Linked DNA regions of Homo sapiens: all the other regions are linked to region 1. The links come from fine-mapping of genetic effects on gene expression. A gene starts in region 1. Each other region holds a variant in brackets. All regions are shown on one strand. Distances are from middle to middle.

What was found. PIP is the estimated chance that this variant, and not a neighbour inherited with it, causes the effect.
Region 2: its variant is the best candidate, but not a certain one, in a credible set for the expression of HMGN3-AS1 in lymphoblastoid cells (TwinsUK, PIP 0.71).
Region 3: its variant is the best candidate, but not a certain one, in a credible set for the expression of HMGN3-AS1 in spleen (GTEx, PIP 0.55).
Region 4: its variant is the best candidate, but not a certain one, in a credible set for the expression of HMGN3-AS1 in macrophages after interferon gamma (Alasoo 2018, PIP 0.56).

What each region holds. Positions count from the first base shown.
Region 1 is chr6:79,229,992-79,237,905 of GRCh38, forward strand. It overlaps HMGN3-AS1 (HMGN3 antisense RNA 1), which reads left to right and starts at 3,683. Exons shown (of 2, transcript NR_040671.1): 1 at 3,683-3,936; 2 at 4,071-6,809. It overlaps HMGN3 (high mobility group nucleosomal binding domain 3), which reads right to left and starts at 4,691. Exons shown (of 7, transcript NM_001201363.2): 1 at 4,555-4,691. The coding sequence starts at 4,569. RefSeq lists enhancers at 1-211, 3,229-4,019, 4,020-4,809 and a silencer at 3,967-4,016.
Region 2 is chr6:79,413,715-79,421,628 of GRCh38, forward strand. It overlaps LOC100506851 (a long non-coding RNA gene), which reads left to right. Exons shown (of 7, transcript XR_001744215.3): 3 at 5,892-6,096; 4 at 6,826-6,923; 5 at 7,324-7,914. Among named protein-coding and RNA genes, the nearest start is that of LCAL1, 100 kb to the left of the region's middle. The variant G/A (reference allele first, on the strand shown) is at 5,563.
Region 3 is chr6:78,483,159-78,491,072 of GRCh38, forward strand. No RefSeq gene overlaps it. Among named protein-coding and RNA genes, the nearest start is that of MIR10524, 52 kb to the right of the region's middle. The variant C/T (reference allele first, on the strand shown) is at 3,639.
Region 4 is chr6:79,423,432-79,431,345 of GRCh38, forward strand. All of the region lies in intron 5 of LOC100506851 (a long non-coding RNA gene), which reads left to right. Among named protein-coding and RNA genes, the nearest start is that of LCA5, 110 kb to the right of the region's middle. The variant CA/C (reference allele first, on the strand shown) is at 2,367.

The sequences.
Region 1 (7,914 bases):
CACAGCAGCATTATTGATAATAATCCAAACCTGGAACAATCCAAATGTCCATCACCTTGTGAAAGGATAAACAAAAATGAGTATATCCATACAATGGAACACTACTGGACAATAAAAAAGAATGATGTACTGATATATGCTACAACACAAACTGATCTCAAAAACATCATGCTGAGTGAAAAAATCAGTCACAAAAGACTACATATTGTATCATTTCTTTTAAATAAAATTTCCAGAAAAGGCAAATCTAGATACAGCAAAAGTAGATTAGTGCCTAGGGCTAGGCTGGGAGTGGGGATTGGCTATAAACTCCATGAGGGACCTTTGTGGAATGATGGAAATGTTACAAAACTGGATTATGACAATGGTTGCGCAACTCTATACTTTACTAAAAATCACTGAATTGTATACTTCGAATGGATGAATGGACTTTATAGTAAGTAGATTATACTCAATAAATGTTTTAAAGGAAATTATACTCTCATAACTGAGAGTGCTGAGTGTCTATATCCCTCAGCACTAGCCAGTAGGTTTTTAATCTTTTTTTAAACCAGATTGGTTATTTTAAAAATTACATCTCATTATTCTTAATATTGTACATTTCTTTGATTTCTAGTAAAACCAAACATTTCTGTCTACTTGAGTCTTCATTATTTTCCTATAAAGATATACATCTTTTCCATAAGGAAATGTGAGATGCTATCTTTTTAAAACAGCAAACCTTTTTCAGTGATATGTGGTACAAATATTTTTTCCCAGTTTTTCATAAATTTAAAAATTTTGTTAACAGTTTTTTTTCCCATATTGAAATATTCATTTTCATGTAGCCAAATTTATCTGTGTTTTCATTTACAGTTTCTGTTTTTGGTGTTATGACAAGTAATATTCTTTTCAAAATTAACTATCACAAACCTTGATCATGGTTAGTTAAGCATCCCCTGTGCTAATAAGCCCAATGCTACTGCTACTGGGCCTTCCATTTTAAGGAAACAGATAAAAACCTAATTTTGAGTTTCAAAGCTAGAGGCAGATGGGCTTTCCTTCCTTAAACCTTTAAGTGTCAAGAGACATGACTGCTTACATGCCACATTCATGGAAAATTGCCTCATTAGAGAATTTCTGATGTGATACACTAGACATTTAAAATAGTTCTAGTGATAAGGAACTGGAAAATATTAATAAAAAGAAAGAGGTAAAAATGTGTTTCCTGTCGCTAATCATGCCAGGACTGTGACTCTAGGCCTCGCTGGCTCATGTCTCTTCGTAGAACATCAAATCATCACATAACAACATGACCACTGCGGGCATTTGTGGATGTCTGGCCAGAACAGTCTAGAACTCAATCACTCATTGTCTCACCACTGAGTCCATGAATGTTATCATTTCCCCTGTAATTCCACTCACCCACCATCCATTATCTAAAAAATACAGGAAACTCACTTTTATTTACATCTCACAAACTTAGAGATAATATGCACTGAAGAACTCTTCACTAAGTGCTGTATTACTTCACAAAATACTATGGCATTTATAAAAAACCACTTGGCTTAATGTAGTTATGACTATCACACACAAAGATACACATAAAACTTACAAAGAAATGTCATCAGAACATTTTAATATTAATTCAGATGATATTATAGCCCTGAAGTTGCAAAACTGAGGCCTGGTCATGTTAAGATACAATCAGGAGACACACTTGAATACCTGGTAACAAAAAATGACTCTGACTTCTTTGTATATTTGAGTCCTACCCACACTTTTAAGACCAGCCTAAAGTTAACTTTCCTTATCTGTCCTACTGCTTGTGGGATCTATAACTACACATTCTGGAACACATACACAGTTTTAATGTTATTCAACTGTTTTGTGCTGCTAGTCTTATCACCTCATTGAATTAAACACAAGTTCCAAGAGGGCAAAAACTGTATGTCCCTACAGCATTACAACAGGGCTAGGATTCCAGATGTTTTCATTGACTTTATCTGTACCACTTCTTGCTCTGCAGAACAACTTACTCAGATGTTCATTAAATAACATTTCTTGATTTCTAGGAAAGGTTGATACAGGGGGCTAAGAAGGCAAAAAAGTACTAGGGGGACATTTTAAAAGCTTATTATATTGTAGAGCAGACAATTCTTTAGTCAAGAAAAATATTGTGTAGTATGTAAATGCTTTGGCAGTTACCCCAGCTTTGAAGATCTTGAAGAGCTATGCATGGATTGTCTCCAGTTCTTTTTTGTATCTAAGCAGGCTTTACCTAATGACAGTGGTTCCTCACATAAGTTCCAGTGAACTTCAGGATTCCATGAGGCTGCTCTAAGACTTGACTGATAGATGGATGGCCATGATCGCCGTGTTTAATCTGAGGTTGTTCCTGCCCAGGTACCAACTGAGGTCGTTAGGCTTCAGGTATAAATGGAAAGCCTTCCTATTAATCAAGGAGAGGTTTTCCATCACCGGAGAACACTCTGATGTCCTCAGGAATGACACACAGGTGCCTGTACACAGTTTTGCCCCTAGTCTCAGGACCATTGGCTAGCTTATGCATGGGGGTTCCCTGCCTTCCAGGGAAATAAAACTGTAGCTGTAATTTTACTGTTATTTTAGTTTTTTTTTTTTTTCCTTCCGTCTCCTTGAGAGAGGCAGACAGGGGAAGTAAGAATAATGGTTTCAGCAGCTCTGGCCCTTGAATAAACAGCAAGGAAGGGTTCCATCGTCAGGGTCCATTATACATAAAGTGTGCACACCTAACCTACTGTTTATGTAAACAATGGTTATAATTCCCAGGAAAAAAAGATGGCCTCCAGCTCACTTACTCTGTAACCCGTATCTTGATGATTAGTTCCTTTGTCTCTACTAGAATTTCCAATCCATCATTAACCCTCAGTCAAAATGCTGAAAATGGTGACATCACTTAATATCCTAATTCTAGTAAAACAGGGCTAGAAAATACCTTCATAAAATTAAGTTTAAATAATAAATCTCAAGTATTAGTGCTCTTAATATGCCATCTGTCTTCTTAAACTGGGAGTACCTTTGGATTTCCTTAATTCCTCTTGACCCACCCTTTCGTAAGTGAGTACGAAATGGGTGAGAATAAGACTTTGGCATCTATAGCATCTGATTAAATCTTTACTAGTAGTTATTGGTTGGTGAGATGCAGGACAATTTATGTCTTTAAGTCCCAGCTGAATGGGGGTAACACCGCTCAAGCTGTTTTCAGGATTAAATGAGATAATGCAAGTCAAATTCTGCACAGCGTGAGGGACACAGTATGTGCACAACAAACTCTAAGACTTTTAAACACTTTCAATTATTTTTAAAAAGTGGGGTAGGAGACAAGTTTCTACCCAATTTTTAGTAATAACATATAAGAAGGGGAAAGCTTTTGAATTTTTAAAACTTCAGTATTTTAAAATAATGCAGTCACTCTCACACACAAATTAGTCCATGGTCTTTGATAAAGCAAGACATTAGGTGTAATTTTGCTTCAAATTTAATACCCACACTCGTTGACACTGTTGGAAACACTGAGGCTGGCGGTGGGAGGGTGCAAAGCACTTGCTTAGGAACCAGCTGAGAAATCCTCACTGATTTCTCAGGGAGGAGGAAACCTTTCCCTTCCCTCCCCGGGACAAGTCGAAGCCCCACCCCGAGGGAGATTTGTGTCCCTGAATGTAGTAGTTGGTGTCCGGGGCCTGCGCAGAAGAGGACAGTCCGCAAGGGGCGGAAGACAAGACAAAAATGACTCCAGTTCGCTAGACGCGCAGAGGGGCGGATAGCGCGCGGACCCCGCCTTCCCCAACCGAGTGTGGGTTCCAGTCGCTGGGGAGGACCTGGTGGCCCCCTGACCTTGGACGAGCCATATTGGACGCCCCGGCGCCGTCCCGTCTTCCACGCTGCCAACTCCACCGCTCCCGCCCCGAACTGCGGGTAGGTCCAGGCCGCCAGGCCCCGCCTCGCCGGCCCCAGCCCTGATTGACACTGGAGTTGGTACATACGGGTCTGCAGCGGAGGCGAGCAGGAGGGTGAGCGCTATTTTAAACATGGCTTTCTCTTTCCCTTAGCCTAGGAGCCACCGCAGCGCACCCAGCCCGCGAGTACAGCCGCATGGGAATAATCCCAACATTTGCCTGATTTATTTTCTTCCCTCTCCTTACGCTTGTACTTGTTTTTCTCCTCTCGCTGTTTTCCCTTCACACTAATTCGCAACCTGGCAGTTTGCAAAGAGGAAACTCCCTTTCGGAATGGAAAGCCGCTTTTGCTTCTTGTTGTTGGGGGTGGAAAACATTCCAGCGAGAATGAGTTCAAAAAGAAGGGAAACCGCGTCACTGGAGAGAAAGTAACATTAAGAGATCGATGAGGACGGAGTGGGTAGGGGGGACAGAGAGAGGAACGTCTGCAACAGGCATCTAAAAACAAGCGTGGAGGAGCAAAGATTCCCAATCCCCGGGTTACTACCGCGCGCGTTCTGCGCGAGCCATTGCAATGCCAGCATTTACTGTAAGCAGAATTTGAAGGCTTTTGAAATCTTTTTTTGGTAAGACTTACCTTTCTCTTCGGCATAATGACTATGTCGGTGAAGCAAAAAGTAAAGCAACGGACTGGAACTGCTGGCGCCGCCGCTGGATGCTGCCTCTGCCTCTGCAGCTGCTCACGCGCAGGGCACGACGTAGCCCGGCCTCTTCGACCTGCACCTCCGCGGCTCCCTCTGGGGGCCCTCTGCTCGCCTCCCTGCTGCTCCAATGAGGAGCCCCGCCAGCCGGCCGCGAGGCCCCATTGGCTGAGGCAACGTTCTAAATTCCACGAGGGCACGCCCACCTCCGCGCGCGGTACGCGCTGTTGTAGTTTCCACTTCACCGAAAAAAATCTGCCTGGCGACTGAGCATGCCCAGTTCAACTAGTAGCCTCCAGGCCACACAATCCTGAAGTTTCATTGTTTCGCTGCTCTCTCTTTGAGATTGTAAGAATAAGAACAGTGTGTGTCTTCATAGGAAGGAAAAAGAGTAAGAATGAATACGTAAACTTTATAATGTAAATATATACACAGCAGGTACCTTATTCATTTCCTACCCATAAAGGCTTTTAATGAATGTTACATGGTGGGAATCTGTAAAGCGTGGGAAGGTACTCTGTACTGGAAGAGCGTGGCAACTTCTAAAGGCCTCAGTTTCCCCCCCTAGATATATAGTGACAACAGTCCCTAAAATCACTTAGCTCTAATTTTCTGAAATCTGTGATTATAAATCACTCACTAATTCAGCTAACTTCAAACTAGATGTGAAGACGAATAGGACATGTTTGTTACGGAAATTAGGAAAAGAAAGAACAAGGCAAAAACTGATTATTTTATATTTGAGACATATATTTGAATGACACCCGTCATGTTACACTTTATGCGTAATATTTCTCAAAGTTCTGCAAGGCATAAAATGAGCATTGCAAAAATATTTCTGAATTCATTTTATGAGACCAGATTTACTCTGATACCAAAACCAGTGAAAGACTTCAAAAGAGAGTTACAGACCAATATCACTCATAAACATAGACACAAAAGTCGTGAACAAAATTTTAGTAAATGAAACTCAACAACATTTAAAGGGACAATACATCATGACCTGTGGGGCTTATCTTGGGAATGCAAAGCTGCTTTTTTAATATCTGAGAATCAATCAATGTAATTGGCAGGATTAATAGAATAAAGGGGGAAAAACAATCCTTTCAGCAGATGCAGGAAAAGCGCTAGTGAATGGGTAAGCAAATTGTGATGAGCACATGCAGTGGAATACTATTCAGCAATAAAAAACAATAAAAAATTTTCCTACATGGATGAATATCAAAAACAAAGTGCTGTACGAAAGAAGTCAAATACAAAAGACCACACTGAATGATTGCATTCATATGAAATTATAGAAAAAGCAAAATTGGGCAAAGTTAGTTTCAGAATCATCTTAGCAGGCAAAGCTCACATCATAGGAAAATGTGTTGAAGCCTTACATTACAAATATGGCCAAATCCACTTTGGTAACACAGAGGCTGCAAATATGTATTAAAAATATCATGTATTAAATATGTATTAAAAAAGCAATGAAGTTTAATATTTCACTTTTTCTTTAGTAATTTTCAGAATACATTAATTGATCTAGTACTCTCCAGAGGTGGTTGATTACTTTCTTTTTTGGAACATCTTTATGAACTCATGGATTTTTACATATTTGGTGTGCATCAGTGTATTGCTATCATTATTATTACCTTTTTAATGCTCCTATTACCACATCTTTAGCCAATGCATACCCTTTCAAATTAGTGCTTGTGTCCTTTTGACATGATCTTAATCATTTTTGATAGATTCCCTGTTCTTGGGCATTCAGTGAATGACAATAGTATACTGAAACGAATTAAGATAAAAACCAATTGCTTAGAGCTAGATAAAAATTTACAAGTTAATAATTTTATCATTAAAATAATATTTATAATGAAGATGTCTTTCAAGATATTAATTTGCCAAATACTTGATAGTTAAATAAAGAAAAAGTCAGTGAAAACATTTTTAGTAAGATATGTGTGAGAAGGATACTGAGTAGCACTTGCAATCTGGACTGGATGGCTATTTTTCTTCATGGAGATGGAAAGGTGCCACAACAAAGGTAGTGCTAAGGTGAATATTTCTCCTCTGTGATGAAAAATAACTCACAAAATTGGCTTCTTTGTTAATTTTTTTTCAAAACCAAACACTCAGATCATCAACAGCAAACAAAATTGTGAATGTTTTTACTGCACACAATAAAAATGCTACGATGAAATTGAAGCTTGCTTGTTGGATGAAGAAAGCTGATTGTGAGGACCTCGAGTTCTTGGAATCTTTAGTTCATTTACAAGTTATGAAAATAACAGCTTCGGTTGAAAAACAACAGCATTGCTTATCTTTCCTTTGATGTAGATTGCACCTGGCTGAGCACTACTCTAGGAAATGAAGTGTTCTCCCTTGTACCTTTAGTAGCCTTCAAGATCTGGGAAAGTCAGTGCAAACCTCTACTGGTGGCCCTGGAGGTAAGAAGAGTAGGCAAAGAGAATGATTTAGCAGGTAGCTAGAATTCTAGGTTAAGAGATAAAGACATCTGGGCAGAAATGAGGGTGTCACATAGAAGACAGTGAGGAGGTCAAGCTGGTAAGAAGTACAGACTCATTTGTTTATCAATATATTCCACTGAGCATTTCTACTACTTTGGAATATCAGCCTCTAAGACAGTAAAAGTAGGATGTATATACTATCTTAGCTAAGGTAGACCTGGATAAATTAACAGAGTTACTGACTGAGACAGAAAGAAAAAAAATAGTGAACAAACTTGTTTTCCAATTCCAGCTCCTCTCCTCTTTTGTCCTACTCAAAACTGTTGGAACTGTACACCTACTTCACATTTTTCAATCAGCAGGGCAAAACCATTTATAGTGTCATGACTATCATTAAGGAAAAGAAAGAGACAGAGACATTGACAGACACACACACGCAAACACACACACAGAGAGAGAGAGAGAGAGAGGGAGAAGGGAGAAGGGAAGGCTAAGAAAAGCAAAGAAAGGGCCAAGCATAGAAAATAGCAGAGTATATATGGTAAAGGTAAGTAATGTTTCATAAGATAATTGTTTCTATTTTCCATATGTGCTCATATAAACACATACACAACACAGATATGTATGTGTGTATGTTGGATTGTGACATGAAATATATTTTTAGTATGGTCTTGGTCAAAAAAATTGAATGCCACTGCTAATGAATGTTGTGGATCTTTGACATTCCGAAAAAAAAATGCTTAATATTAAAATTTTTTTTTTAGAGGTAAGATCTCATTCTGTTGCCCAGGCTGGCATGCAGTGGCACAATCATAGCTCACTGCACGTCAGACTGCTGGG
Region 2 (7,914 bases), 180 kb after region 1:
GAAAAAATAGGAGAAGGATTTTTTAACATGTTTCTACTCATGATTTGGCAGCTTCCCAAAACCACTCTGAATCTGTTCTTATTTCCTTGCAACTGAAGCTTTTCTCAAGTTAAATTTTCAGTTATTACTAGTGGCATTTCCCACATCTCATGCACATATATATTACCCATTTGAATGAAAATAAAGGCACTCCCAACATTCCATTCTATGGGAGGGAAAGCACTCAAATGTGTTGAGTGGAAAAACATGCATTTCCTGTTTGTATTCAGTTAAAACTCAAACAACTTCAGAACAGTATGTATTATAACATAATCATTGCCTGCCTAGAAATGCCTCTATGAACATATCACCTACTTCTAATTCTTTTATTCGGTCTAGAGTATTTGAAGAGAAGTTAAAACTGATATGTACAGGAAAATATTATACATTTAATACAGGAAAGAATCTTGTTGTTAACAATTAGTAGACTCTGTTCTACAAATTTTGCTAGAAAAATGTGGACCCTAACTTGCCCATAAAAGAATCTTTACTAGCTATGATTTTCCAGAGGCATTTATTAATCATTATCTTCATGTGCTTTTATATGTTTGGGTTGTCAGTCTCAGCACTTTCAGAAGAGCTTGGGGATTTAATGAAATAAATGGATTTTTTTGGTCATTTCATGGGGGTTGAAATTCAATTGCCGTATAATGAGCATGGTGTATTCCACTTAATTACTTTTCCAGACTCTTCTGTCTTATACCTGAATCAAGGTTTTTCAAAATTATAATTAAAACATTGAGCGTACGTGACAAGGGAAAAATAGTATTGAGACATGTTTGACTTTGCCTAAAATTACAGAAAAGAACATTAATACTTTAAAAGTATATCTCAGGAACTGTGCTGGGACCTTGACACTGGATTTAGCATCTAAGTTATAAAGGGCCTTGTCAGGAGCCTTCAAGGTGATAGTTGGGATGGGAGCTGGAAAGCTGTGGGTTAAGAATGAATAGGAAATGAGCAAGAGAACATCCTAAATGTAATCCTGTTTCACAAAGCTTGACTTTTTAAAGGGAATGTGCTATGTGGTCTGTAATTTACTTTAAAACACTTCAACAAACAATTTATGTGTAAATACTTATTCTATTTCATTTTAATCCAGACCCTAGGGCAGGTAGTTATTCGAATTGAAAATATATACTCCAGCAATGGTTTTTGGTAGCATTTCATCAAAACGCTAAATTTCAGAGGCAGCTATAGTTGCCTTGGTTTTTATCTCGAACACAAGAGGTTTTGATAATTAGTGAAAAGAATGTGAGAAGTAGGTTTTCATTTGTGAAATTCCAGGTATTGAAGTTATGTGGATGGGTTAGAAATGCTTTAGAGGTGTTCTCACTGTTTCATGAACAAGGTAAAAGAATATGGTGATGCTCCCTAGGCTTGATTTCTGTGCAGCCATGTGTCCAGGATATTGAAAGGAATAAGGTTCCAGAGGAGGAAGGAGGCTGGAAGAGATGGGATACTTCATGGAGGTGGTAGAACAGGTCCTGGACAACAGGAGGGTGCCTTGGGACTGGACATAAACTCTATCATTTGCCTGAAGCCTTTTAGGTCATAACATTGTTGACATTGGAGCCAAGTTTTACTAATTAATAGCTCCAGGCATGTGTGGTTTACTCCACCATGGTCTTCTCATCCTCTCTCCCCATCCTAGGGAAAAGCTTTTCTTTCTTCCAGGTGTTACAACCTTTTCTCTGAAGCAGACCAAGAGAGACTCTTTTTTTTTTTAGACAGAGTTTCACTCTTGTCGCCCACGCTAGAGTGCAATGGCACAATCTCGGCTCGCTGCAACCTCCGCCTCCCAGGCTCGAGTGATTCTCCTGCCTCAGCCTCCCGAGTAGCTGGGATTACAGGCATGCGCCACTGCACCTGGCTATTCTTGAACTTTTAGTAGAGACACGGTTTCACCATGTTGGCCAGGCTGGTCTCGAACTCCTGACCTCATGTGATCCACCTGCCTAGGCCACCCAAAGTGATGGGATTACAGGGGTGAGCCACCGCGCCCGGTCAGAGAAACTCTTAAGACTATTAATGGAATTTATCCTTCTGGTGAGTAATTAAAACTTATCTAGGGTAGGGCTTAGAAAATATCTGTTTATAGTTGTTGTTAATTAATATGTATAACCATGCATAGCATATATTTTGATTAGCATATAAATGCTTTCAGAGTGGTATCTATTGGGTAAATGTGAACCTTTACATTAGCAGACTTTTTCTTTTTTAAAATAACAATATAACAAATTTAAGGAGTGAAAGAGGATGGCAATTAACAAAAAACCAAGATCAGCTACAAGGTTAATGCTAAGATAGACCTGTCAGTAAGGTCAATGAGCTAAGATAGATTGTGATAAAATCAACAGTGTGCAATGACATTTTACTGAACACTTAACACTAAAATTTTGCTTAATTCTTTTACCTACTATATTAACCATAAACTGACTTTTTCTAAACATGCTTTAATCAAAGGTGGTTGAAAGAACTATAACCTAAGGTGAATAAATGGTTTAATTTTTTTCCATCTCTACAAATGTTTGAAGATATTCTAAAGGCCAATATTTTGTTACATTAAGCAATACTGCTGAAGAAAATTTCTATTTGAAGTCTAAACAGTAAAATGCCATTGTCATAGCATAAAATAAACTACATAACAATGGATGCTTCTTTACTCAGGAAGATTAAGTCCATATTTTTCAAGGAAAGTCAAGAAATGTAGTTCCCTACAGTTTGATAACATAACTGGTTATTAGTATCCTCCCCAGTCTAATCATACTGAACGGTATATATCAGAAGCAAAACAAAAGATGCTGAAAGCTTAAGGGCAGGAGTAAGGGTAGAGGAAAGGAAGTCAGTAAAATGATCTCCATGAATGCTCTTATTTCGGTCCAAGGAGTCTTTTCAGTGTTTAAGAGAAAGGCTGAGCCAGTGCCTAAGAGGCCAAGAGCTCCTCATTTAGGAAACTATAGAACAAAGGGAATCTGGAAAATTCTTACCTGGAGTAAAACCAGAATGTAAAGTTTCCTTTTATGTACCATTCCACATGGCACTAAATTCATGGGCATTGAATATTTTTTTAAAAAGTTATTAGGCATAGAAAACAAATATTGAATAAATTACAGTTGGAAAAGGGAATATGCTATACAAGCAGCATTTTAGGATTTAGACATTACGTACAGAGTGAGGGATTCTAAGTGTATCATAATTTTATCAATTCAGAACCAAATATCAGGTCAAAAGACATGTTTTGGAAACTCTATAACCAGATCACAGGAATAAGGAAGTTGTAACATTTGTTCTAGTTACATATACAACAGTTAAATTCGTTCTCTCTTCACCATTCTCTAATGTCATAGGAGCTTTTAGCTTTGAAAAATGCATTGGCTTGGGGCCAGAAATGGCATGGAACGGTGCTGCTCAAAGTGTGACACATGGATCCATATCAGCCTGCTAACTGTTACTAGGTTGTCAATGAAATAAAAGCAGAAATTAAAAGTTAGATTTACAAACTGTTACAGCAATTTGACATAGTAATTTTATACTGGCTAAATCTAATAATAAATAAATGGGCTTCTATTTATATTTGTTTATATTTTCATTTCACCTTTCTAGCAATTTATATTATATTTCACAGAACTATTCTCTTTCGGATGGGAAAAAACCCTGGTTCTTCACCTTAGATAGTTTGAGAAGCATTGATGTAGACCATAACTGAGTGATAATTATTTTAAGACCAGATTTTTTGTTTTTTGGGTTTTGTTTTGTTTTTTTGAGGCACATTCTTGCTCTGTCACCCAGGCTGGAGTGCAGTGGCAAAGTCTTGTCTCACTGCAACATCCCCCTTCCGGGTTCAAGCAATTCTCATGCCTCAGCTTCCTGAGTAGCTGGGATTACAGGCATGCCACCATGCCTAGCTAATTTTTGTATTTTTAGTAGAGATGAGGTTTTGCCATGTTGGCCAGTCTGGCCTTGAACTCCTGGCCTCAAGTGATCCACCTGCCTCGGCCTCCCAAAGTGCTGGGATTATAGGCGTGAGCCCCCATGCCAAGCCAAGACTAGGTTTCGAAGTCCAAGGTCCATACCTCTGTTAAGATATTTTGGATTAAAGAAAAGCTGTGATGACATCTGAGATTCTTTGAACTCCTTTTTCATAGAATACTCATGAATACTTGAGCCCTCCATGAAAAGGAGGGGTCTTATAGAAAAAGTTTTATGAGCTGTTGATTGACTAATTCTACATTTCAGAGTCAAAAATCTATGTCTACTTTGGGTGACTTGTTTCTGCTAAATTTCCTTGAGTCCCTTCTGTCTTCTGATTTCTATTCTATAAAATCATAGCAGTGTCTGATTCCGGGAATGACATGTGGTTTTCATTTTTTCAAAAACAACATTCAGCTTTCCATTACTTGTAATCATTGAAGAGCATAATGCACAGATAGCTAGATGGCAGAAATTTCCAAACTCACTTGTAATTAGCTCTGTAAAACATTTATATACCTTTAAAAAATCGTTCTTCCGAGCTGACATATGTAAAGTTAAAGTTAGCTGGCATTTCTGAGCAGAGCCCAGTAGAAAGCAGTGTGAAGAGCCCAGGCTGAGAAGATTTTTTTCAGTCTGGTTTTTTATTTCATTGATCTCCAAAGTGGGTTATCTATGGGCTGGTAGTTGAGAGTTGCCTGTACATACAGAACTATCTCTTAACTGACTTTAAAACAAAACAAGGAATGTGGCTTCCGTCAAGTTAATGAGGGAGGTACCAACCTTCAGTGAGCCCCTTTAATCAGAGCACAGAATAATAAATGATGATGGGATAATTAGAAAACAATTTAGAAAGCAATGTTATATCTCTACTTATATCAATTGTTGGTAAATTAATTAAACTGTAAGTGGGTGGCAAGGGTTTTTTTAAGCAAACCCCTAATGTAGAAACTTTAAGGAAAAATAATGATAGGACTTTCTCAAAACAATCAACAAAAACTGTGCTCTCAGTTATAATTGAAAACAAGTGAAATAGTGTGGATATTTGTCTCCTCCAAATCTAATGTTGAAATTTGATCCCCAATGTTGGATGTGAGGCCTAGTGGGAAGTGTTTGGGTCGTGGGGCAGATACCTCATGAATGGTTTGATGCCATCCTAGTGGTAGTGAGTGAGTTCTCACTCGATCAGTTCACACAAGAATTGATTGTTTAAAAGAGCCTGGGACCTTTCTCTCCCCCAGCTCTTCCTTTCACTTGCCATGTGATGCCTGCTCCTGTCTGTCTTTCACCATGAGTAGAAGTTCCTTGAGGCCCTCACCAGAAGCGGATGCTGGTGCCCTGCTTCTTGTACAGCCTCCAGAACCATGAGCCAAATAAACCTCTTTTTGTTATAAATTACCCAGCCTCCCAAATTCCTTTATAGCAATACCAACAGACTAAGAAAATCAGAAAAAATTTAAAAAGCATATCTGTGACATGAATGACTTAAAAAAAAAGAGAGAGATAGACCTTTATAAGATACAATTGGAAGTACAAAAGCTATAAAGGAAA[G/A]TCTAGATATTGTTTACTCCATAAAAGCATTTTAAAGTCTGTATGGAAAGCAGTGCTTTATAAATAAAGACAAAAGACAAGCAATATGCAGAAGAAAATGTTTGTAACATATAAGACAGATTAAAAATGATCATAGCAAAAACATAAGACATTATGCATCAGATGCTTATAACATATATGACAGATTAAAAATGATAACAGCAAAACATAAGACATTAGACATTATACATCAGGTGCTGTTCAAGACATTTTACATATTAACGCATTTAATCCTCACAAAGATGAATATTACCTAATGAAATAGGTACTATTATTACCCTATTTTGCAGATAAGAAAACTGAGACACAGAAAGGTCTCAGGAAGAAAAAAGACAAGGTGGAATTCGGATCCAGGCAGTATGGATTTAGGGTCTGTTCTCTCAATTACCATATCATAATGTGTCTCTTAAAAAACTTTAAAATGTGAATGCTGTATGCAATGTTAACAATGATGTCGATGATAGCACAGAAGGCAGCTACTCTCACCTACTGCAGGTAAGAATGTAAATTGAACAATTTCTCAGGGTCAATTAGACACGACTTAATGAAAAGCCAGAGAATTCTGTATGAATATTTGACCCAGCAATTCCACTTGTTTTTTATGGTATCAATTTAAAATGGATCTTTATGCATTGACACATGAATTTTATATACCTTTAAAAAATTACACGAAGTTGGTGGCAATCAGAATGTGGGTGCCGGATTCATTTTTGCTTATTTACAGCACTGCCAGCATGTACTAAAGTATTCAAAATATGACCAAATTTAAGCAACCTCAGATAATGGTTGCTGTTTCTCCCCTCCCTAACAAACCATTTTCTGTTCTTGGGTACACAATTGGACTACATATCCCAGCCTTCTTGCAGTTAGATCACATGACTGAGTTCTAGTAATGAATACAATTTCTGGGACAGAGCTTTAAAGAAGGAGGTGTTCCACCTCCAAGCTCTCATTTTTCTTTCACTGACTGGAGGCAGATGATGAATTTGAAGCCCTGACAAAGAGAAGGCAAAATCAGTTTGTGTCCCTGAGTTGCTAAGTGGAGAAGAAACGTCCACCAACCAGGAAACACCTGCCTCCAACTGTTAAGTGAGCAAGAAATAAACTTCTGTTGTGTTTGAGCTATTACACATTTTCTGATCTATTTGTCTACAGGTTAATTTATGTTTAAATATGTTTTAAACTGCCACTGAACTGACTTAGTCACATATTTAAACTTTGCAGTAGGTCTGTGAAATGTGCTTTGTTTCTGGTCAGCATGGACACCCGCTTTAATAGTGGCTTCAGATGAGGCACCTTGTGACAGAGGAGCTCTTCCCCTGGTAAGCCATTTCTCTTGATATGTCTTCAGCTCCTTGGTAACAGCTTGTGATGATGATCTTGCAGACTTCTCCAGCTTTTCTGCTGATACTCAGATTCTTCTTCTCAGCAGGCTGGTTCTTGTTTAGCTAGCTAATGATTTTATTGAACCTTTAAGAATCTTGTGTTTGCCCTCCGTCATTGTTTTGGCCTTAAATTTTCTTATTTTCCACCTTGTCCTTAGTGAAGACTGTAGATTTAAGTGAGTTCTTAGGAGATACCAACTACATTTCTCTGCTTCTCCTTTTTTTGTGGGTGTGGAACTTCTCAGCCTTTTGGACTACGTAATTAAGAGCTTCATTAATCAATATATTCTTCCACATTGTGAATTAATACTCTTCTGTTTGGCCTCTTTGTTCACAGCAGCAACCTTGAAGATGTTGTGGAAGACAATAGCCATTCTTACTTCACTCTGAGGATCACGATGGCGTGCAAGGGTGTGCCAAGCACATTGCTATCTTTGGCCATTCTCTCTCACATTAGTACACCTGGATGTGAATGGCACGTTATCTATGTAAGCAGTGATGGTCTCTATCTGGTGGTAGAAATGACAGAATTACACACAATCAGGACAGCTGAGATTCCATTTACTAGCTCAGTAATCAGAGAATATGTATGACATCCCAGCAAAAAATGTTGAACATGTTCAGATTTCATCATATCAGCACCACAGTATCAGTCTTACTGGGAGGTGCTCGCATTCAGTTCCTGGCTACTGAAGAAATTTTGCAGGAGTTCCAGATAACTTACTTGTCCCATAATAATGAAAACTATTACAATTATGCTAAAGAAGAATACTTAATAACACAGTAAAAATGTTTATGATGTCTTTTAATTTCTAAAGCATGTTATAAAAGTATTACAGTATGATCTCATATTTGTAAGTAAAATATATATTAATTCATTTAGCAAATAAATATTAAGCCCCTACTATGCACATACCAATATAGATAT
Region 3 (7,914 bases), 750 kb before region 1:
CCCAGCCTTCATCTCTCTCATGCCAGAACTAGGATACGGACAAAAAGTTGTGGTAAGAAATCAATTTCTCTGTTTTTGTTTAAGGTGATCCAGTTTTGTAGACATGGCTCTTAATAAAGAGACACCCCTGCCATGTATCTGGCCGACTTACTATCCAAAGGGCCTCAGCTTAAATGTCACCCTTGAGGAAGGTCTCTCAAGCTCCCCATCTGTTATCACAATCACACATGGTCATTTGTTTGATTATATACATAATGAGTGTCTTCCACACTAAAATGTTTTACGAGACCCTATCTGCCTTGTACCCCATTGTACCTCCAGTTCAGCATCTGACACAAGGTAGGTGCATGATAAAAAAAAATGTCATGAATGGGTTAACTGTAAGTCATCTTCTCCATCTTATCATAGTTTAAATACGCAAAATGGGAGTATTTTGTAAAAATAAATTATAGTCAATCATTAGCTTTCGGAACCTTTTAAAAAAATTTCTTTAATTCTATATGCAAGGCAGAGTAACCTAATTGGAAGGGCACTGGATGAGTGTTTGAAGACACAGCTGTTTGTGCTGGCTGTCATTTCTTAGTCATGAGATCTTGGCTAATCTCTTAAATTCTCTGAGCCACAATTTCCTAATCTGCAAACTGAAGATAATAATACTTCTCCTGCATGCTTCACAGAGTTACTGAAAGGATCAAGAGAGAATTAATGTGAAATTTCCTTATAAACTCTAAAATACTAAGCCAAAGTAAGTGGTGTCATTCTAACAGCTTTTATGTATGAAGGCTGCTTATTTTTATTGATTGCCTCTCCATACACATACATAAAGTACTTTTAGGTAAAGATGAAAGCTATTACAGTACTCTGTTATAGCCCACCTCATTAATAGATCATTGAATAAACCACTAATCTATCACTTAAATAATGGACTATACAGCTAAAGCATAATAAAAAAGAGTTTTGATCAAGCTTTGAGTAGTGTTTTTCAAGACAGACAAAGAAGAAAATGCAGTTTTTCTCTCTCTCTCTCTTGCTCTCTGTCTCTGCATGTAAATCTATCTGCATGTAAATCTATCTCTGAGGTTTCAGAGTTGCATTATGGTGATAAAATCAACAAGCAATTGGTTCTGGCCATAAAACACATAAGCTTAAGGACCTACAAGTCAGCAATTTGAGAGTCAAATCCATCTTTCATGGGTGGATTTCACTCAGCTAATAGACAGAGAATGATGTATAAAATCATAATGCCAACTTGTAAATTTATAAATAGAAATATGGTTGTCATACCTCCTTAAACACTGACATCGGCATAACCACCTCTTCTCTCCCAAAGGCAGATCATTAAGGAAAGTCAAACTTTAATGGGAAGGGTCCTCAAGAAGCATAAAATCACAACAGAAGTAAGTTACATTAGTCAGATGATGGTCCAAAGCACCATGTCCACAATAAAACCATTGGCCAATATGTTCTTTCTGTATTTAGACTGGACACAGCTAATGTTTGTTCTTCTGGGTCAATTGTTTCTGACTTTATTGCTGAATAGTGTCTCCTTTGACTGTTAATTTTCCTTTAGGTTTATTTATTTATTCAGTCAAGTCTTGCTCTGGCCCTGCCAGTAAATCCATTTTTTTCCAAGTGGTCACATATCTCTGTTATGATCTACTATCCATTGATTTTATAATTTAATTCTCAGAGAATAATCTCATTCCTCCTACTTACAAGATCTCAGGGGAACTTCATGTGCCACTTAATGTGCCCCCATGTACCACTTTCAATAAAAACAAGAAATAAAAACATTAGCCAGACATGAATTGAGCTGTCTGTTGCTCATAGGACATTGAATTATGAAGCCAGCACTTAAATACAGAAAGACAAAAGAGTCAGCATTTAAAATGATGTTTGTCCAAAGTTATATTAAAACAAGACTAGTAAAGAACCCAAGGGATTTTTTAAATGTGACCTGTCTTGACAAATTATTCAACCAGATTTTAAGAAACATGGAGTAGCTTTTAAGGCATTAATGTGTTTAATGAAGTAGAAAAAGAAATGAAAAATCAATTTCTTACAACTTATTAATTCATACTAAGAGACTGATTTCCATTTATAATTCACTATTATTAATCTCTTTCATTGATATCTGACTGGGCAATTATAAAACAACACTCTTGATAAGCTAATTATAAAACAACACTCTTGATAAGCTAAGTATCATTAATTGTAACAAAAAATGGAAAAATATTGAAAACATACTTGGATTACCAACTACCTTGTGAATAAGGCTTAAACTATTTTAAAAACAATACAGGCCATGTGCAACCCAAATATCTACACATTTTATAATTGGGATAAAATGTGAAGAAAAACATTCCAGGAGCACATACATCAAGAAATAGGTTTTTATTTGTTATAAATTTTCATAGATTATGCTGCTTTAGTGACATTTAGGAAGAGAGACATTAGAATACACAATTAATGCAATCCAGGTTATTGCCATGAAAAGTACATTTGATATCTAATTTTATAAATCTCTATTTTAGAAAAATGTGTTCCCATTCCTAACAGATATCTCCAAAGGAGAGTAGAATCTTTTTTAATAAAAGATAAAAAAGAAGAAAAAATGTACTGATATAAGATCAACACAGCAGAGAGAGAAAGAGATGCAGTTTTGTCTCCATCTTAAGCAATATAGAATTTTAGTGGCATTTTATAATTACTATCACACTTGTTGTTGAAATAGGCATATATGGCCCAGATAATTGCCAGCAGCATGCTTACCTTTGAGTGTAACTCAAGCTCATTTCACTATTTGTTTGTTTCCTGACTCATTCCAAAACAGATTTATGTTTAGCTTTGTGCCATTTTGAATGTGTCAAAAGAAAGCATACAAACACCCAAAATCCCACACCTTAATGGAAAGTTACTTTGTAATATCTTTGTAGCATAGTTCTTAATCCAAATTAAGCTAAAACTTTCAAACATTAAAATCTATAAATGTTTGGAGTGCAGGGCATTGGAGGTATTTAACAAACATGAATTCCTAATCTAGATGTTTTCTCCTTGAAACCAAGCATGTTCCAGGACTACTATCCCACCACCTCTCAGCTTCTGCTAACAGAATGTGACTTGGTTTTGCTAGTCATCCAAGTTGTCAGCATCATGAACTAAAAATACATATAGATTTTAGATTAGCTGTTGTTTGAGATCCTTGTTTTTATTATTTCAATTAAACTTTTGTAAAGTGTTTGGCTCATGTCTTTGTGTTATGGCCTATGGTAGGGAAAAAAACCAACAAAAAGACATACTCTCTACTCTCAAGAAGCTCCACGTCTACTGGGAAACACAGATGCCATCAGTTCAAATGGCTGTAATACAAAACATGATGATAGCGATGACTAAAATAAATATCATTGGTTGAACACTTACTATGACATAGATACATTTTAAAGAATTTTGCAGGTATTTCCTACTCAATGAAGTATTAGGTTGGAGCAAAAGTAATCCAGTTTTTGCCATTATTTTCAATGGCAAGACCTGCAATTACTTTTGCACCAACCTAATAGATGTTAATAATCTTATTTTACATGTAAAGAAACTAAGAGAGAGAGTAAATGATTTTCCAGAGACCACACAGCAGAGAAAAA[C/T]AACAGATCTAAACTATCTTCAGTCAAAGGTAAAAATCCTTGGGATTGTACATAGGCTAACATCTAAATGGGTCAATCTTTTCATTCACAAGTAGGTACACAACGGCCAGCCTCATGCCATGTCTCATATTATGCAGAATGAGCCACCTACAAACCCAGTCTATAAAATATAAAATAGATGAAACTCCCTCTCACAACTTAGTAGCAAAAAAAAAAAAACAAAAAAAACCCAGGATTTTCTTAAAATGATTAACTCAGTTTTAACTTTGTGTCTGTTTTCATAAATGTCCTTCAACCAAATTCTCATTATTCATTCTACGAGGCAATATCTTCTTGTGTATCACATACTTAGACTCAAAGTAAGTACAAAAACTGCTACCTCAGCTAGGTGGAAAGAGAAGAAAAATGGTATATAATTGCATAAATCTTCTAAACAGAATAACATTTACCATTGTTTATTAATCTCTTTAATAGCCTTTTCCCTGAACAAGGAAAAGAAGCATGACTTTTTAGAGCACTCCAGGTAACTGCTTAGCTGTTGACTGAGAAATAGTTACTCATATACACCTCCGCTCAAGCTTTGTTTCTTGAAGGAATGGCACAAACTGTATAATTTGGCTCAAAATCCACAACCTAGCAAGTGTAATTTCCCTGTAGCCTTAAGTGAAGGCAAACTTTAGCTGAGCAGTAAACATGGTATACAGATCAAATAGAGGTTTGAACATACTCTATTTGCTTCCCTTTAGAAAAAACAAAGAGAGGAATGACAGGAAATGGAAGCAAGCATATCAGGGCAGATGAGAAAGGAAGAAAATAAAAATACCTTAGAACTCATCCAACTTACTCAGCTGAAGCCAAGGAGTCTGAGTCACAAACACAGCTCTGCCCCTTCACTGGAGCTGGGGTTGCACAGGCAAAGTCCGACACAGACATTATTGTCTCTCAAATGTCCAGCTTTTAAAATGTATTTAAGAAACATGTCATTAACACTTAATTCTCATATACTCAATTTACCAATAGAGATAGGTAATATGATGTATCATAATGTGATCATACAGAGAACAGTTACTCAGCCCACAGACCCCTTGCTTTCCATTTCTTGTGGTACCAACCAATTTCTCCCATTTTGTCCCTTTCATAAAAGTAGAGGTATGAATAATATAGTGAAATGGAATCAATGGTTTCATCTGAACAATGTTTGCTCAGTTGACACCTTACTGATAAAAACGTAATAGCTATGTAAGAGTGGACTAAAGAGCTGATTTACTTTATTATTTCATTCAATATGAACTATAGGACAATGCGTTTCTATAAAAAATTTGTACCACAGATTTTGAGTGGCAATACATAGCAAAATAATTGTCCTTTCCCTTCTAAAATTATTTTTTGATAACTAAGTGAACTTGTTATAAAAAAATTTCCTCAATTGCTTCTCAGTATATTTGTAGTTAATTTGAGCTCATGATCCTCAAGAGATTATGTGAAAATCCTAATGGAAGCATAAAAAAGACTGAAAGCTTTGTGGATGTTTCACAGGCTAAGACTTCAAACTTCCGCACCAAGTTTTAATCCCGTTGGTATCTGTCCAGGGGAAAATATGTTCTGATTTTCATTCTTCTTCCTGAAGTTTTCAACTTGCTTTCCTAATATTCTTCATCAACACATGAGTTCTTCCACTGCATCTCTCTCCTAGCCACACTATTCTTGGGATCATCTCACCACCACTCTGCCAATAACCATGGGACTCATTAAAAATAGGATGCCAAAGGCATCCTTCCTTTTGATAAAAGGAAATGCGATAGTATTAAGAGCTGTAAAATCCCACGGATTCCGGGTTATAGGATTTAAAGTCTTATACCACTTTCAACCTTAAAATAGGAAGAAGAAAAGGAGGTAAGGAAAAATGGAGGGGAAAAAAGAAGAAAAGAAGGTAAGGAGAGGGGAGAGGGGAGAAAGGGAGGACTTCCTTTTAGGAATTGGATCTCCTTTCCCTGGGTTCCATAATGTCACTTATCCTGTTTATCCTCTTACTTTGCCAAAGCTTATCCCACAGTAATTTCATTTAAAAGAGCACAAGAATCACAAATGACTTTTCACATCCCAAAAAATATATTTACTCTATACAAATACTTGAATAATAGTTTGGTGGGCTATGTAATGCTAAGTTGAAAATTACATTTCTTTTTAATGTTAAGGTGTCTCTCCATAATATTCTAACTTCAGTGTTGCTTTTGAGAATTTTAATGCCATTCTGATTCCAGAGTCTTTGTAGTTAAATGTTTGTTTTTCTCTCTGGGAAGTTTTGGATCCTCTGCTTTTTCCAGGTGTTACGAAACAGCACAAAAAATGTGAATCTTTTCTTGCTGAACTCTTACTGGGTTCTTTTAACCTGAAGGCCTGTACTTTAGTTATGGAATTTTTTTTTGTGCCCGATTTCTTGAACAATTTCCTAAACTGTTTTCTCTGTTCTCTCTTTATTTAATATTTATTAGCTTAATGTTGGAATACTGGATTGATAATTTTCTTATCTCTTTTTTTTTCTATTTTCCATTTATTTATATTTTGATTCTATTTTCCCCAGGAATTTTCTCAATATCTAGTTGATCTTCTACATGATTTTATATTAATCTCCAGGAACTTTTTCTGATTGTTTCTTTACATAAATATCTTAGTTTTTCCTTTTGGTTTTTGTTTTTATTGGAAGCAATATTTCTTGTTATTCTTAGGATTTCAATTACACCAATTGCTTTTGTCTTCTTTATCTTCCTGTATTGTCTGTTTCTTTTACTTTTTCTTTTTTAACCATTTGCACTTCCCCACCCTGCTGACATGTTTACATTACCAGGTCTGGTACAAAGGAGTCCAGAGCTTCTCAGGTTCAGTTTCTCCTGAATATATTAATGGCTGGCCTCCTGCTTGAGGGGGAGTCACTTGATCTCCAGAAGGGAAGGAGAACTAGGGGCTTAACTGTACCTTATGCACATTTTCCTCCAATCCAAGAAAGCCTTACTAACTTCATAAGTCATGGAACTCCTTGAGAGTGAGTTTTTCAGGTTGCAGTGGTCCTCAGTGTGGTCTTCTATAAATAACAAACTCACATACTGGAAACAAAAATCACAGCCATTCATAAAGAACTTCCTAGGTATCTATCCTGATTGTTGCTTGGTGTTTATACATGCATGATGTTCAGCCGTGATTCACTAGACTCCAGTCACATTCTCCTTCCTTCTATTTTTCTAATACTTCAAGCTCTTTCCTATGCTTATTTTGGAATTAAGCCAATACTTCTGTATATAGATTGTTTACAATCAGATACAAACTAAAGGAAGGAACAGTGATCAAAAATGCATGACCAGGCTGGACATGGTGGCTCATACCTCTAATTCCAGCACTTTGGGAGGATGAGGCAGAGGCTTGCTGAGGCCAGGAGTTTGAGACCACCCTGGGCACCATAGTGAGACCTCATCTCTACTAAATAATAAAAATAATAAATAATAAATGCATGATTAGACAGAACCCCACGGCTGAAGGAACCATAAAGTTCTATAAAGTACTATCCTAATAATGCAAAGTAAATAAATTCTTGCTGTTATACCAATCTACCATTAAAAACCACATAAGTAAAACGGTATACTTTTAAAGAGATGCTTCACAAAGGCATATTGATTGATTGGATGTTTTTAAAAGAACTTAGCTATATAATTCCTTTAAATAACTATTGATTTAAATAACGATTTAAAATTCCTTTAAATAGCTATTACAAGCCAGTAAACATTTCGCTATGCCAATGTTTATAAACTTCGTCATTACATAAAACTAGATTTATGTAAATCTAAGTTTTTGCAACCTAATATTTCTGTGACAATAGTGAAAAGTTTCTATTGTTAAAATCTTTTTATGTTATTATGATTTGAGGATGATCCTGCCCAAGCCCCTTCTCTTGAGAACTGCCACCACCTGCCCCTGGAGTCATGTTTGTCCCTCAGGCCCTTGTTCCACAGCCATATTCTATTGGGCAATTTATAGAGAACTAGTAATCATGAGACTCAGTTGGATTAATGAGAATCTCTCTCCAAGGAATGTGGAATTGGGTCAATGAGCAGGAAGGTCAGTTAGTGGTGGTTGCTTCTTTGTTGTATTATAACGACTCCTAGGTCAGAGGATCTCGCTTTGAGGACACTGTGATAGGAATGTTTAAGGAGAGCACAAGAAACTGTCCTTTAGCAAGAAAAGGAGAATGAGAGAGGCACTAAAATGGCCCCATTTATTACCAGAA
Region 4 (7,914 bases), 190 kb after region 1:
TAAAACAATACTGGGAGCTTCTTGCAGGTGCTTAGAGTTTTATTAATTACACTCAGCTGGGCCGAGGGAAACTAGAGATGAAATCTAGGAAATATTCCAGAGTCTGGCATGTGAGCAATCATAAGCAGTTCATGGAAACCTCAGAGTGTCTCAGCTTTCCTGCTTTATATTCATTAATTTCCTTTTCTCATATTAATAAAGGTCAATGCTGTTAGTGCCTATCTTATCCATAGAAAGGAGCTTGATCTTGAACTAATTCCATTATATTCTATTTTTTAATAGAAAACTAAAATCTTACATTTGGGGATGGCTTTGTTGTCAGTATGCTTGGTACAGCTTTGTCTTTTTCTAGTGAATAGCCCTTTACTTTATTCCAAAAGATCGTATGCTTCTTAGAAGCATTTTTATTCTTTAGTTAAAATTACATTTTACTTTTAAAACTCAATTTAAAAATCAGCAGTTATTTATTGATGGCATGATATTAGTTGCTATACTAAATCCTATAGATGAATTAATTCTCACACTGACACTAGGAAGTAGAATCAGGTCTTTCTGATGCTCTATAATAAAGTGAAAAAGAACACACCACACCCACATTAAGAATAGATTAAATGTCTTAGTTAATTAGCCAAGGAAAAAGAAATCTCTCCAAGGCAGGACCAATATGGCCTGACTAACAAGGATTTCCCTGGTCTCTGCTCCCTGAGAAAGTCCACCAGGAAGGTCATATCCACAGATAGTAAAGACCATCAGTGTCTAAATGTCCCTGATAGTAGACCTACCTCCAGCTTTCCAGGCTTCCCAAATAATTACGTCTTCACAACCCAAATTATTTTCCAAATCCCGTGTTCTTATAATTACAGCAGATTTCAGAACATTATACCTTTGCAGTGGTGTTCCTTAAAAATGAGGTACATAAATTCCTTTAATTCTATAGTGAAATAAAAATATAGTTCATTTACAATTTAAGGACTGGGGCAACTAAAATCTGGCCATTTGAATAACTAATTTCTGGTAAAAAGAAGAGGAACTAAAGTATAGAGATTGGTTAATATAGTATTGGAAATTGTCAGGATAATTTGGGAATAGTTCTTTTTAGATCAATGGATGGATTCAATAAGAACATCTTTGACTTATGATTCTAAAATGTGGTACTATATTTTTGCAAATTTCATCTTGAGGAAATACTTTTCTGTAAGATTTTCTCCCTAAAGCTAGATTAGATCTCCAGTGGGAGTACCCGTACTCCCTGGAAGTCTGGAACAAAACAGGCAATAATTTCTCAGCTCTGCAATGGTATACAATGGTTGCCTAAACAAAAAAGGGCAAAGTTGTCTGGTACTTGCATAAATAGATAACTAGAAAGATATAGACATGGGTATGCATGGGTGTGTGTGTGTATATGTGTATGTGTGTGCATACAATTAAGAAGCCTATATGTATATGGATATAAGCTTATAGATATACATACATATAAGCTTCTTAGTTCCAAATATAGTAACATAAAGAATACTTAAGTTATTAGGAAAAGATACTCTTTCAATGCAGGCTCTAGGGTGCACTAATTCAGTTGTTACTATCCATATGTGGGGCTATATAAATTTAAATGTAAATTAATTAAATGTAAATTAATTTAAAATTCATCTTCAGAGCTGCACTAGCCACATTTCAAGTACTCCACATATGGCTAGTAGCTACCATATCAGATAGCACAGACGTAGAATCCTTCCATCATTGCGGGAAGTTCTATTGGACAGTGTTGGTCCAGAAGTTAAGGAAATATTTTTAAAATGCATTTAATAAGGGCTTGTTAGTCTTATCCTTTCAATAAAGTCTTCCCTGAACTAATTTCTGTTGTAGATTACTAAAATGGGCTATTTTATTATGCTGTTCACATAGTTATTCAACTTCTAATTAGAGGTTGATGAAGTTCTTTCATTTACAACAGTATCATTTGCACCACATTTTCCAACTGCATTAAGAAGTTACATGATCTCACAGAAAATAACAAAAGACAGAGAATTTACTCAACAGTCTAGAATATATAAATATAAATATATGTGAGGGGTGTGTGTGTGTGTGTGTGTGTATGTGTGTAAGTTTGTGTTGACTGAAAACCAAAGTTGAGAACGACGTGCTCCCACATTGTAAAGTGAAATGCTAAACATACTACTAGCTGATCTTTGCAACCTTTTCAAGAAGAGTCCAGTTAAGTCCAACAGGGACTTCTGGTCTGCATAAGGAAATCATTAGAGAAGATGTTTTGAAGAAATGTCTAAGAGCAAAGAATTACCAGTGGCTCTCAAAGATTCTGTTTGCAAGTGGCATACTGCTCATATTTCACTTGCCAAATCAAGTCATGTGAC[CA/C]AACCTGCCATCAATGGGGTGGAGAAGTATACTCTTCTTACAGAGAGTAGCAGCAAATAATTAGGGACAATAGTATACCTGTCACAAGGCCCTTTTGCTAATGATAAACATCTCACTCTCTGTATTAGTTAGGGTTCTCGAGAGAAACAGGACCGGTAGGATATACATATATAAGGAGATTAATATGGGAACTGGCTCACATGATTATGAAAGCAAAGAAGTCCCATCATATGCTATCTGCAAGATGGAGAACTCCAAATTCAGACTGTAATTCAGGTTGGGTCCAAAGGCCTGAGAAACAATAGGAGCTGCTGGTATAAGTCCCAGAGTCAGAAGGCCAGGAACTCCAGTATTTCAGAGCAGAAGACAGGTGTCCCAGCTCATGGAGAGAGAGAGAGACAGACAGAGAGAGAGATAGAGAGAGAGAGGGAGAGAGAGAATTCGCTCTTCCTCTGCATTTTTGTGCTGTTTAGGTCTTCAACAGATTAGATGATGCTGACCACGTTGACGAGGGCAGCTCTTCTTTACCTCAGTCCACTGATTCAAATGCTATTCTCTTTCAGAAACACCCTCACAGACACACCCAGAAATGTTTTACCGGCTATCTGGGCATCCCTTAATGTGTCAGTCAAATTGACACGTAAAATTAACCATGACACTCTGTCTTCTATATATCTTGTTATGATATAGCTGGTTTCTAGACGGTATTTTTATATCTGCTTAGAAAAAGGACCCCTATTTTTAGAACAACTGAGGTATCTGGTTCTTCAACATTTTCAACAATAGACCACTGTGGTTTCTTGGAGTCTCTTATCATCCTTGACCTAGGCTCAGCTTCACTGGTTACCCTCCTACTGTACTCCAAATCTGTAGCATGCATAAAAAGCAGAGAACACTTTGTTCATTACTCTGCCTGTTTTAGTGCCAGAGATCCTGGCCTGTAGTCGGAAATCTGGTAGGGAACAATTTGGACAAATTGAATAGAAGGTGTTATTTATGGCCATGAGGACAGAACAAGAATACCTGCCGCTGGAAAGCTTTAGATTATGATCATGTTTTCTTTCTCATTAGCAGGGTATTTCAAAGGCGGGTGGTGGTCACTTTATTCATTATAAACAAATACCGCTGAGCCTTAACTTTTAGAAGAAGCTTGTATTAATCAACACAGCACCCAGAAATGACACCTGTGAGACAGCTGTTTTTATCTCCATTTTGCAAAAGAGCCAGCAAAACAAAGAGAGGTTAAGCAACTTGCCCAGAGCCTCACAACTCTTAAGTGCTAGAGATGGCATCAGAGCTTGAGTCTTCCTGATTCCAGATTTACACATGGATCTGGTGAGCATCTTCCTACTCATATCAACAAGTAGCATTTGTCAGGTGGTATACTGCATTCGCCAGGCCTCTTGCCAAAGGCATTATCAACATTGGTTGATTTGTCTTTAAAATCACACTGCAAAATAACTATTATTCTTACTATTCTATAGCTAGGAAATTGAAGCTTAGAGGGGTAAATATGCTGTGAAAGATTACACTGCTAACAAGTGCTGGAGCCAGAATTTTAAACCAAGTCTAACTCTAAAGCCACTGTTGCCACTGCTTACTAACCTCTACTGTTATAGCTTTAACGCTTAGCATCTGCATCCAAAACTAGGGGTGCCCTGAAGTGCAGAAAGGCAGTATACCTGAAGTCATACCAGAAAGGCAAGTAAGAAGAATACAATTACTTGAGTAAAAATGCATGGCATTGGATGATGGTGTAGGTTTATGGTGGAAAAGAGAATATTAAAATGAGAATTACAGAAGAAAATCACTTAATCTTGAAATAGAAATGGATTCCTGTCCCTGAAGCTCTTTTGCTAATTTTGCTTTCTCAGACCTAATTTTTGTCTTAAGCATGCTTATTTTGATTCTAATCCAGTTGAAGCAAGCTTATAATTAAAGTGGCATTTACTACATTGGACATTTTTCATACTGATTAGATAGGAGTGTCTAGGGCAGCGAAAGGCCCTTGGGATCTGGGCACATCCAATGTCTTGATCACACGGTAGAAACAGGCAACCAAAATACAGCCTTGGTGGGAGACAGTCTGAGTCAGAGGCATTGTTAGATGATAAGCCAAAGCAGAAGCCAGGGAGCTGAGTGCACCCAGAGATACTCATTGCTGGGAGGCTCTGTGTTCATCTTATTTTAATCAGTTGACCATTAAAAGAGAGAGAATGAAAAATCATTAGGATGACTGAGTCATATGACAATTGTGTGCAACTCAACCATACCTAATACTAAAACAAGAGGTATTCTGATGGAAGTTAGCACACAGATTGACATGAGTTGTCATTTCTGACACTTAGAACCAATCTTTTTCTAAAGAACTCCTACCTCTCAAAATGGTAGGATATGAAAATGAGGCCCTAGCTAGATCAACTCAGTGGAAGCTAGTATATGATTTCTTAACTATTTCAACTGGAAGTATGCACCAGGCTGTCACTGATGTCCAAATAACCCCTGCAATACTTAGACATCCTTCCACAGAAGATTATTCCTAATTCCTGTATTTCTAGAACGATGCCCAGAATTTAAAATAATAGCCCCATGCCTTGCTACTCGTAACTGAGAATGTAAATGTCCTTGGATAGCTGGAAAAATTGGAGAAAAAATGATAAAGGTTTTTCTTCATGACAATCAGTTCTACAGACATCTAGCTCTGCCAGAATGGAGGCAATCATTTATTATTGATTAAGCAGTGGAAGCCGTGGTTCTGGGTTTAAGGAAGACAGTTTTCTGGCCAAGAGGATCTAGAAAGTGCCCTTGGAACAACTGACTTTCCAGGATGTTAATATACTCTATGGCCACTGACAAAAATACGAAGGATTCTGGGCTTGATTTTAAAGGAAGAGTGAATGTTCACCCTCACTTCTTCGAATATTGAGTAGAAAATCAAAGGCTTTTCTCTAATCTTCATTCCTCTCTTTATTCCACTCTTGGAGCCTGGTTGTAAACCTTGGTATCCTGTGCTATGGTGAGTCTACAGATGGATTGGGTTGTTCAGAATCTTCCCTCCTGTAATACACTACTACTTTATATAAAGAATGACCCCAATCACAGGTTCTTATAGATCTTTAGAGGAGAATTTAAAACTATGGGGAAAACAGTAATTTTGTCCCACTACAAACAAATCAATCTGTGATTTGTGTATTGAGACTCCCTCAGAGAGATTTAGGCAATTAAGAATTGGAAACCCTTAATTAGAATGAAAAAGACTCAGTGATGGTAGATGGAGATGCTGATGAGTTCCAGAAGGGCTCTCTGTGTGTTGAGAGTTGGGTAGTCAATATGCAATGTAACATCTAGAGTAGTGTGGAACATTTCATTACCAAACACTGTAATCATGCTCAGGGCTCCCCTGGAGTGGCTCATCATGGGCCCTGACCTCAGGGTCCTATTTCTTCTGGTGTGGTTTGGGGTATATTTAGTGAGTAAATGACCATGCTTTCTCCCAGTGGAACTAAAGAGGGCAGGTTGGATACAACAGCTTCTAGAGCTGGCGCTGGACTTTGTCAGCAGTATGGCTTTTATGATCGTCGATCATAAGCAAAGAAAAACTGTTTCTATCCCTCTCTCTGCCAGGCATCCCTCCAGTGTCTAGGTTTCCCCTCTGCGGCTAAGTGGTATACATAACACCCCTTCTATGTGCCAGGCTATGTCACTGTAAGGCCCTTCTGATAATGATAAACAGCTCACTCTCTGTATTAGTTAGGGTTCTCCAGAGAAACAGGACTATTAGGATATACATACAAAGATATAAGGAGATTAATATGGGAATTGGCTGTAAGCAACTATAAGCAGTGACAGCCTGGTACATAGAAACAGCCTCCCCTTTTCTCTACACTTAAATCCTTCCTGTTCTTTAACAGGGAGCTTGGACTTCACTTCCTGCAGACAAATATCTACATATTACCCTCCAGTTTATTTTTTATTTTGTTTATTTAATTGTGACTTTCTTCATTGTACTGTAACTCCCAGGGTACTGAACATAATTCTAACAGGAAGACTTCAATTAAAATGGAGTAATGGTGAGGTACATCTGAGATACTTGCTATTTTGGAATCTAGGAAAGCAAATGTCGACGGGAAAACAGGAAAGTAGGATTCAACATCTAGACTTTTTAATGGTAAAGATTCCAAAGAAAAGGCTGTATTTAGGAAAATGAATGAATACTGTTTAATTATATGTAGAAATCTAAAAATAAGTGAATGAGTATATACATTGGAGAGAGTGACAGAATTAAAAGTAAGACATCTGCAAAGTGATAGAGGAAATAGAACAGATAATCTGGATATTACAGGCCAAAAGCAACATAAAACATCTAATAATGTTTTTGGTATAGTGGAAAAATCAACAATAATCTGAAATTTTCTGTTCTTTTGCAATATGAACAAATTTTATTTTATTGTTGGATATTCTCTCTGTCAGCTTTCTAAAATGATCTGGATATATTACTGACTTTTCTAACTTTATTTTCCCTGCTACTATTATTTTATGTATTACTCTGTGGGCATCTTATTTTCTTGCCTACAGGGAATAATTTAACCTAAATATTAACATTAGTCATTTGAGCATAGTATTTCACGGACATTTTTATCCCTCTGTTTTTTTAAGATCATCCATTACTTTTATTCTGTTTCCTGTGTTGACGTTTTTCATGCTGTTTGCAATAATTTTCAGTAGGAAAAAAGTTTAAATGCATACAGTGACACTTCCATGAAATGGAATTTTCAAAGACATTTGTTTCTTGAATCTGTTGCTATGATTTTAAAATAGGAATGTTATACCCAGGAAAATATGCAATGTGGGAGCAGGACATATTTTACCACTGTGGGTATGTTCAAATTTCTAAAAATATTTTTGTTTTCTTTCTCTTTTTAAAGTTTGACAAGAAAATATTTGTGCATTCAAAATTTTTTTCCTAGTTATTGAGTTGTTTTATCTCATTGTTCCTTGATGTCATCTCACCTAAGTATATGATTTCAGTGTGTTTTCTGGTTGGACTCCTGAGAGATGGCAACGTCAAGCAGGTTTATTTAGCTGTGTGATGAACAGAACTGCAGGAAGCAAGCAAAGGCTGTTAGCAGAAACCAGGAGGAGATCTTTAAAAGCATGATGAGCTGTGTTACACACACCAAGGGCACAAATAAATTCCACTTTGCACCATTCTCAGAGATATCGCTGGTAGGTGGTAGAGTGTTGAGGAGTCAGAGCGCTAGTCGAGGATCAATGCGGCAGCAGCAGCGTGGAGGTGAGAGAGCCGAGGATGCCGGGAGCCACCTGGTTCCCACGACTGATGGAGCAGGACCACCGCCCTCAGCCTCAAGCTGTTCCTGCAGCTTGGAAACTATCGGCTAAGCTGGCCCAGAGTATGAGAATTTTCTAAAAGCTGAAGGGAGACAGTCCCTTTAGTCCATGGGTATTCCAGTCATTAGATCCAAAGACAAGCTCAGCTTCTATTTCAAAAAAAAAATAGCAGATAGCTGCAGGGTTAGCTCTCCCCGC